Linked DNA regions of Homo sapiens: regions 1 and 3 are each linked to region 2. The links come from fine-mapping of genetic effects on gene expression. A gene starts in region 2. Each other region holds a variant in brackets. All regions are shown on one strand. Distances are from middle to middle. Region 1 overlaps PIGU (phosphatidylinositol glycan anchor biosynthesis class U). Region 2 holds the start of RALY (RALY heterogeneous nuclear ribonucleoprotein). Region 3 has its middle 11 kb from the start of EIF2S2.

The links. PIP is the estimated chance that this variant, and not a neighbour inherited with it, causes the effect.
Region 1: its variant is the best candidate, but not a certain one, in a credible set for the expression of RALY in whole blood (TOPMed, PIP 0.59).
Region 3: its variant is the best candidate, but not a certain one, in a credible set for the expression of RALY in whole blood (INTERVAL, PIP 0.51).

What each region holds. Positions count from the first base shown.
Region 1 is chr20:34,656,886-34,659,640 of GRCh38, reverse strand. It overlaps PIGU (phosphatidylinositol glycan anchor biosynthesis class U), which reads left to right. Exons shown (of 12, transcript NM_080476.5): 2 at 2,397-2,461. Among named protein-coding and RNA genes, the nearest start is that of PIGU, 19 kb to the left of the region's middle. The variant C/T (reference allele first, on the strand shown) is at 1,642.
Region 2 is chr20:33,992,781-33,995,535 of GRCh38, reverse strand. RALY (RALY heterogeneous nuclear ribonucleoprotein) reads right to left here and starts at 1,625. Exons shown (of 10, transcript NM_016732.3): 1 at 1,405-1,625. It overlaps RALY-AS1 (RALY antisense RNA 1), which reads left to right and starts at 1,169. Exons shown (of 2, transcript NR_109886.1): 1 at 1,169-1,331; 2 at 2,631-2,755. RefSeq lists silencers at 905-1,234, 1,455-1,504, 1,565-1,694, 1,875-1,984, 2,155-2,404 and enhancers at 2,182-2,708, 2,645-2,724.
Region 3 is chr20:34,122,292-34,125,046 of GRCh38, reverse strand. It overlaps the pseudogene RPS2P1. Among named protein-coding and RNA genes, the nearest start is that of EIF2S2, 11 kb to the right of the region's middle. RefSeq lists a silencer at 284-353. The variant C/T (reference allele first, on the strand shown) is at 1,076.

The sequences.
Region 1 (2,755 bases), 660 kb before region 2:
ATTTCTCAATCTTTTCCCCACCTTTCCCCCCTTTCTATTCCACAAAACCGCCATTGTCATCCTGGCCCGTTCTCAATGAGCTGTTGGGTACACCTCCAAGACTGGGTGGTGGCTGGGCAGAGGGGCTCCTCACTTCCCAGTAGGGGCAGCCGGGCAGAGGCGCCCCTCACCTCCCGGACGGGGCGGCTGGCCGGGCCGGGGGCTGACCCCCCCACCTCCCTCCCGGACCGGGCGGCTGGCCGGGCAGAGGGGCTCCTCACTTCCCAGTAGGGGCGGCCGGGCAGAGGCGCCCCTCACCTCCCGGACGGGGCGGCTGGCCGGGCGGGGGGCTGACCCCCCCACCTCCCTCCCGGACGGGGTGGCTGGCCGGGCGGGGGGCTGACCCCCCCACCTCCCTCCCGGACGGGGCGGCTGGCCGGGCGGGGGGCTGACCCCCCCACCTCCCTCCTGGACGGGGCGGCTGGCCGGGCAGAGGGGCTCCTCACTTCCCAGTAGGGGCAGCCGGGCAGAGGCGCCCCTCACCTCCCGGACGGGGCGGCTGGCCGGGTGGGGGGCTGACCCCCCCACCTCCCTCCCGGACGGGGCAGCTGGCCGGGCAGAGGGGCTCCTCACTTCCCAGTAGGGGGTGGCCGGGCAGAGGCGCCCCTCACCTCCCGGACGGGGCGGCTGGCTGGGCGGGGGGCTGACCCCTCCGCCTCCCTCCCGGACGGGGCGGCTGGCCTGGCGGGGGTTGACCCCCACCTCCCTCCTGGACGGGGTGGCTGCCGGGCGGAGATGCTCCTCACTTCCCAGACGGGGTGGCTGCCGGGCGGAGGGGCTCCTCGCTTCTCAGACGGGGCGGCTGCCAGGCGGAGGGGCTCCTCACTTCTCAGACGGGGCGGCTGCCGGGCGGAGGGGCTCCTCACTTCTCAGACGGGGCGGTTGTCAGGCAGAGGGTCTCCTCACTTCTCAGACGGGGCGGCTGGGCAGAGACGCTCCTCACCTCCCAGATGGGGTCGCGGCTGGGCAGAGGCGCTCCTCACATCCCAGACGGGGCGGTGGGGCAGAGGCACTGCCCACATCTCAGACGATGGGCGGCCGGGCAGAGACGCTCCTCACTTCCTAGATGGGATGGCGGCTGGGCAGAGAGGCTCCTCACTTTCCAGACTGGGCAGCCAGGCAGAGGGGCTCCTCACATCCCAGATGATGGGCGGCCAGGCAGAGATGCTCCTCACTTCCCAGACGGGGTGGCGGCCGGGCAGAGGCTGCAATCTCGGCACTTTGGGAGGCCAAGGCAGGTGGCTGGGAGGTGGAGGTTGTAGCGAGCCGAGATCACGCCACTGCACTCCAGCCTGGGCACCACTGAGCACTGAGTGAACGAGACTCCGTCTGCAATCCCGGCACCTCGGGAGGCCGAGGTTGGCGGATCACTCGCGGTTAGGAGCTGGAGACCGGCCCGGCCAACACAGCGAAACCCCGTCTCCACCAAAAAAATACGAAAACCAGTCAGGCGTGGCGGCGCGCGCCTGCAATCGCAGGCACTGGGCAGGCTGAGGCAGGAGAATCAGGCAGGGAGGTTGCAGTGAGCCGAGATGGCAGCAGTACAGTCCAGCTTCGGCTCGGCATCAGAGGGAGACCGTGGAAAGAGAGGGAGAGGGAGAC[C/T]GTGGAAAGAGAGGGAGAGGGAGACCGTGGAGAGAGAGAGAGGGAGAGGGTGAGGGAGAGGGAGAGGGAGAGGTTATTTATTATTTATAACACAGTATAATTTTAAGTATAAAGCATTCCATTATATAGAGATATATATTATGTCATAATTCATTGAAATAAATTTTCATTAATGGACATTCAGATTATTTCTAATTGTTCAGTACTCTGAACAGTGTAAGGAACATACCTCTTTGGGTACTTGTCAGGTTATTTCCATAGGATAAACTGCCCTAAGAAGTATCATATCTGGGTCAGAAGGCACACACTTAGAAAGCACATATTGCCCTGTCGAAAAGTTAATACAAATGTCACTCAAATGAGCAGCATATGAGAGTGACTGCCCATTTCCTCACACTATGGCAACATTTCTCACCAGCTTCTAATTTGTTATCTTATTGTGCTTTGGAATGGGGAAGATTAGGCATAAATGAGACATTTTTGAGAGTTGGTAAGAGTTACAAGGAACTAAAAGGAAGCAGATAGTTTAACATAAAACTGTCTTATAATGAGTGCTGCCCACAATGAAAAAGGATGCTGTCCATGAAAGAGAGTTTCCCGTCATCAGAAATGTTCAAGACTTAAAGCCACTTGCTGGGGATGAGGTAAAGGGGGTTAGATAAACGCTAAGGCCCTTTTTGGTTGTGGGGGTATCTAACAATTTGGTCTGTAGCTGCCTGCTTAGTCTGAGTGAACTTGTATATCTAATTTTTCAGTGGTTGAAGGCCTTTCACTGTTGGACTTGGGAGTATCTCCGTATTCTGGAGCAGTATTTCATGAAGTAAGTGTTCTTATTTTCTTTTCTGGGTACCAAGAGTAGTTTACAGTCACAGATACCAAAGCCTAACCTCTGTTTTGTACAAACATTTAAAAAGATGTATTCTTGACGATCATATTTAGAAACAGCCCGTTTTTAGATGTCCTCTGCATAAGAAAGAGGTTTTGCAATTGCAATGGAAATGATCCAGATTAAGATTGTAACTGGGGAAGCAGATGAGGCTTCTGTAGAAGTTACCATTTGTAAAGGCAAATAAGTTGCAAACAGTCCTTAGTCCGCAAATAGGTTGTATGCTAA
Region 2 (2,755 bases):
CATTGAAAAACTGGAACATTTGCCAAAGTTAATTTTAGTTCACTTTAACCACTCTGGGCCTTATCTGAAAATAGGAGTAATATTTGTTTGAAGGCAGATGACTTGAGCTACTCCCCCTAACCCCCATCAAACTAGGATCGATAAATCTAAACACAGAGAACCTGCAAGGTCTGGGAGGAGGAACACACCACACACAAACTAAAGGGTGGATCCCACCGTTTACAGTCTCAAAGCTTCCTTGAGCCAAAACCCCAGGGAATTTGAGTTGTGTCTGAGACCTGGAGTCTGCATCCATCAACTTCTAACTGCCGCAACACTAGCAAGGAATTCATCCAAACCTTTCCCTTTAGAACTATGGTAACCCCAGAATGGGATTTCATCCACAGTATAGTGGACAACGGCCCAGAAGTCAGGGAAAACCCAGAGTTATGCCCCTAATTAAATGGTGTGACCCAAGGCTAGGTAAAAATACCCTCTGCACTAAGAGATGATACATGCTCACACCAGGAAATATTAATAAATAATAGGTACTGGCACCACTCCTTTGCACTTCTGTGGCTACTGTGACTTGGAGAAAATTACTTGACCCCTCTGCGCCTTAATTTCTGCTTTTGTAAATGAGGATAAACCAGAAGGCCGTTGTGAACATTAAATGAAATAAGGCTTGGGAAGTTCCTGGGTGAAGTCTCATTAAATGTTCCCTGTCGGTGTTAAACACTTCTTTCACATATTAGTTCCCTCCCTGAATCCACGAACACCCCGCAAAGCGAGTTTCCTTCTTTCCCCCCATGTCACCGAGAGGCAAACTAAGACTCGGCCGCCAAGGAGGCTGAGTGAAACGCGGATACGGCCCCAGTTCGAGGGCCCGTTGTTGTTTCTCTCCGAGCCCAAGGCGTGCAAAGAGCCCAGAAGAGGCGGGAGCCGAGGCAGGACAAGCTCTGCGCGCCTCCGGGAGCCCGTAGACCCAGTCCGGGTTAGGAGAGCCGGAAGCAGCCGCGGCCGGGCCCGCCTGCGGCCTCCCCGGAGCAGCCTCCGTTCCCCTCCCTCCGCCCCTCGCCGGGCGGGGCGGGGCACGAGCACAAAAGACTCCAACTTCCGAGCGGGCGCGGGCCCACCCAGCCAACTACTGGCCCAGACTTGGCCCGCGGAGAGAGCAGACAGGGAACGCCGGGAGCAGGACCGGGCGCGGAGGGCTGGGGCCGGGGACCCGGGGCGGCGGGTCCGAGTGGGAGAAAGGAGCGGCGGAGGGGGCCTAGAGTTACTCGGGCTCCCGGGACTCCCCGAAGGGCAGAAATAAGTTTCTAAAAATAGGCAGCGGCCTGCCGGAAGAAGTGAGTGAACGGAAAGGCACAAAGCACACACCCTCCCCGCACCCCTAAGGAGACGCCCGCAGTCCCCACTCACCCGCGCCGAGAGGTCTGGAGGAAGCCGCGCGGCTGGGAAGGAGGCGGTACTGCCGCACTCGGGGACGTAAGGGAGGGAGGAAAAGGGCGGCTGCGGCGGGAAGAGGCTGGGCACACGCGCGGGAGTCGTCGTCGTCGCCGTCGCCGCCGCTACCGCCCCCTCAGCTTCTCTGGGTTCCGCTGCCCCGAGCTGGCGCCGCTCGCGCGCCCCGCCGCACTGACAGCGGCGCGAGCCCCGCAACCGCGAGCCCTGCCCTCGGCCGGCACCACTGAGGCGCGCGGGGGTGGGGGCACCCGGAGCGGCTCCCCGCAGCTCGGCTCCGCCCGCCGCTCCGGCCCTGGTTCCGGGCTCTCCTCCTTCTCTGTCTCCTGGGAAGGACACGGTGACACGAGCACGAGGAGTCTGCAGCCCCGCCCAGAAACAGCCCGGCTTCCCAGGCGCATGGGCTCTCCCCACCCTCTCAGCCTGGCTTTGGAAAGGTCCAGAGCTTCGGCGGGGACGGGAGGAAGGCGGGGCCAGGGTGGGGCCTGAAAGGGAGGAGGGACTGAGACGCGGCTTGGGGAGGCGGGGCTGGGGCGGGAAGAGGGCAGCTTGCACAGGTTTGGAGCCGAAGTAGGGGCGGAGCTAAGATGGTGATGAGGCCCTGGGAAGAGGGTCGCCGGACCAGTGGGGAAGGCCGTGCAGGAGATGGAGAGCCGGGAACCAGGACAGCGCTTGAAAGGAGATGCTGTGGGCGGGGCTAAATGGAGAATCGCCCAGAGGGCGGAGCCACGGGTGGAGGGAGGCGGGGCTGAAGAGAAGCTTAGAGTGGGAGGAAGATGGAAGCGGGCCTGAAGGAGGCGGGCCCGGAAGCAGGGAGGGGAGGAGGGGCCCCGGGGGTGGCTACTCTGGGCGGGTGCCGGAAGGAGGCGTGCCCCAAGGAAGGACTGAGGGGTGGTGCTTGAGGTGGGCGGGGCCTGGAGATGGCGCTCAAATCTGCAGGCTGTGGGCGGTGCAGGAGGGATCCGGAAGAGACGAGGCAGGAAGAAACTCCTGGTCCTTTCGCTTTTAAGGAACGTGCCACCTAGACAAGGTGAGGGTCGCTCTTCGCTGCCTAATCTGGGACTGGGCGGAGAGGCCGCGCTAAGGGTGATCTCCGAAAAAGATGCAGGAGATGTTTTATAACTTGATCCAGGTGCTAGTCCTCTCTCCTACACATTTCTCCTGTCGGGATTTCTCACTTTCAGTGTTCCAGCCTCCGGTGAACCAGTCTTCCTAGTGAGAGCACGAGAAGCCCGTTGTCCTTCATTCCTCAGCTATGGATTTCCCTGAAAGTTGAGAACTGACCATATTCTCGATGCCTCCTCCGACC
Region 3 (2,755 bases), 130 kb before region 2:
CAGGAAGTTTATCTGTAGGATGATAAAGTGGGTACCTAGGTGTTTTGTTGGGGGACCTCAAATATCAGTATGTATAGATCTTTCCTCTGGGGTTAATTAATTAAAATTAATTCCCTGATATCTTGCCTGGAGAATACAAGCCTTGCTGTCAGCATTCCTGGAATAAATTTCAGCAGGAGGACTGAGTGCGCTTCACCATTCAGCATGTAGACAATTCATCTAATCTCTGTTTTCAGTCTGAAATCCTCCTACCTTAGCCTCCCTGCTATTATATCTTTAGCTGTGCCTGGTATCTCAGTGTCTGGAACTTCTCTACCTCAATTTTGTCCCAGGGGCTGCTAGGGAGATGAAAGGGTAGTTGTCTAAGTGAGTAGGATGGAGAAAAAGACCTGGCAGTTTCACTTCCTATAAAGGCTTTCAGCCAAACCCTCTCTCTTCTGCCTCTCACATCACCTCTGATCTGCTCTGTCCCAGTCCTGACATTCTAGTGTTCTGCAGTACGAATCTGTTTGTCCCTTGTTAGTATAACCCTCAGCAAACATTTAGAATTGTTTTCTCAGCTCAGCTATGGTTTTCCATCTTCCAAAAATTTGTTGATATCCTTAATCTGCTATTGATTTCTTTCTTATTCTCTTTGTCTGTAGACTGGTAAACCTAAAAATGTTAACTCACTGTCACTTCAGTGATTTGGGGAGTGAACAGGGATAAACATATGTGTTTAATCTGTCCAAGCATAAACAGAAGTGCAAGACTGTCAAGATGTCCACTCTTTGCTCCTATTAAAAAAAGTTAGAACCAGAAAATTCATAGATATGGCTGGGCGAGGTGGCTCACGCCTGTAATCCAGCACTTTGGGAGGCCAAGGCGAGTAGATCATGAGGTCAGGAGTTCAAGATCAGCCTGGCCAAGATGATATAACCCCATTTCTACTAAAAATACAAAAATTAGCCAGGCACAGTGGCAGGCGACTGTAATCCCTCCCAGCTACTTGGGAGGCTGAGGCAGAAGAATCGCTTGAAGCTGGGGGACAGAGGTTGCAGTGAGTCAAGATTGCACCACTGCACTCCAGCCTGGG[C/T]GACAGAGTAAGACTCCGTCTCCAAAAAAAAAAAAAAAAAAAAAAAGAAAATTCATAGGTAAAATATAGATAAAATTCTACTCTCATAGGCCAATGTGGAAAAAGTAGGAGTCTGAGAGTTGCGGTACATGTGTCCAAGCCCTGTTATTATCATTTACTGGTCTGAAGCTAGGTAAGTTAAATTTTCTGACCATCTGTTTCCTCATCTGTAAAGTGGTGATAATCATCCCTAGATAGTCTATCTTACTTGTAATGATGAAGTAAAATAATTGATATAAATATATAAACATCAAATATATATCATTTATCATAAACTCTATTAGAAGTAGGCACAGTTAAATATATTTTCAGAGGCACTGTAACATAGTAGAAATAATATGGGCTTCAGATTCACACAGACTTGGGCTCAAATTCCATCTCTGTTACTCACTGGGTTATGTTGGGTAAGTGACTGACACTCTCTGAGCCTTCATTAACCTGTTTATAAAATGGGTATAATACTTTTAACCTGACAAGGCTGTTGTTGAGTATTAAATGAGATAATGCATGTAACATCTATAGGGCCTGACACTTAGTAAGTACTCAACAGATATTAATTCTTCCATGTTGGCCCCTAATTTGAGACCAGCTTTTTTTTTTTTTTTCAGGCTTAATTCAGTTTGTTTTTCTTGTATAAAAACCCTATGCTGTAGCCACAGCTGGAGCCTGGGTCCTCTGCATGGAGACTCTGGTGTGGGTCTTGACGAGGTGGTCAGTGAATTCCTGATAGGGAGACTTGGTGAATATAGTCTCCTTCCAGAGGTCGAGGGTCAGGTAGCTGTAGGTCTTAGAGATGGTGTCAAAGGTGGCCTTGGCGAAGTTGCCAGGGTGGCAGTGCAGCCCCTGGCTGAGGTGTGGCAGTCATCAATACCAGCCATCATGAGGAGCTTCTTGGGCACAGGTGCGGAGACGATGCCAGTGCCCCTGGGTGCAGGGATGAGGTGCACCAGCACAGAGCCGCAGCGGCCTGTCACCTTGCAAGGGACGGTGTGGGCTTGTCCATCTTGTTCCCCCGTAGCCTCTGCGCACGGGGACAATGGAGTGCTTGGTCAGGATGACGGACCCGCGGATGGCAGTAGCCACCTCCTTGGAGCACTTAACGCACAGACCGACGTGGCCATTGTAGTCCCCGGTGGCAACAAACGCCTTGAACCTGGTGCGCTGGCCCGCGCGGGTCTGCTTCTGCACCGGCATAATCTTCAAACCCTCTTCCTTGAGAGAGGACCCCAGAAAAAAGTCAATGGTCTCAGATTCCTTGATGGGCAGGGAGAAGAGACATCCTCCAGGTACTTGATCTTCATGTCCTTGACCAGGTGGCCCAGCTTGGTGACGGGCATCTACTCCTTATCCTCGGCCTTGCCTCTGCGAGCTCCATGGCCTCGGCTCCGGCCCAGTCCACGGCCATGACCCTGGCCCCGGATGCCACCGCCGAAACCTCCGCGGAAGCCACCGCGGTTCCCCATCCCTCCCAGGGCTTGCGGGGGCCTCCGCCCGGCCTCCGCCCGGCCTCCACCCGACCTCCGCACCCCACGCCCTGCCGCCCCCTGCACAGGCGTCATCCGCCATTTGGGGATTTGTTGAAGAAGAGCTTTTTTATACTAACATGAAAATCCTGAGCTTGTATTTCATTAGTTCATGCTA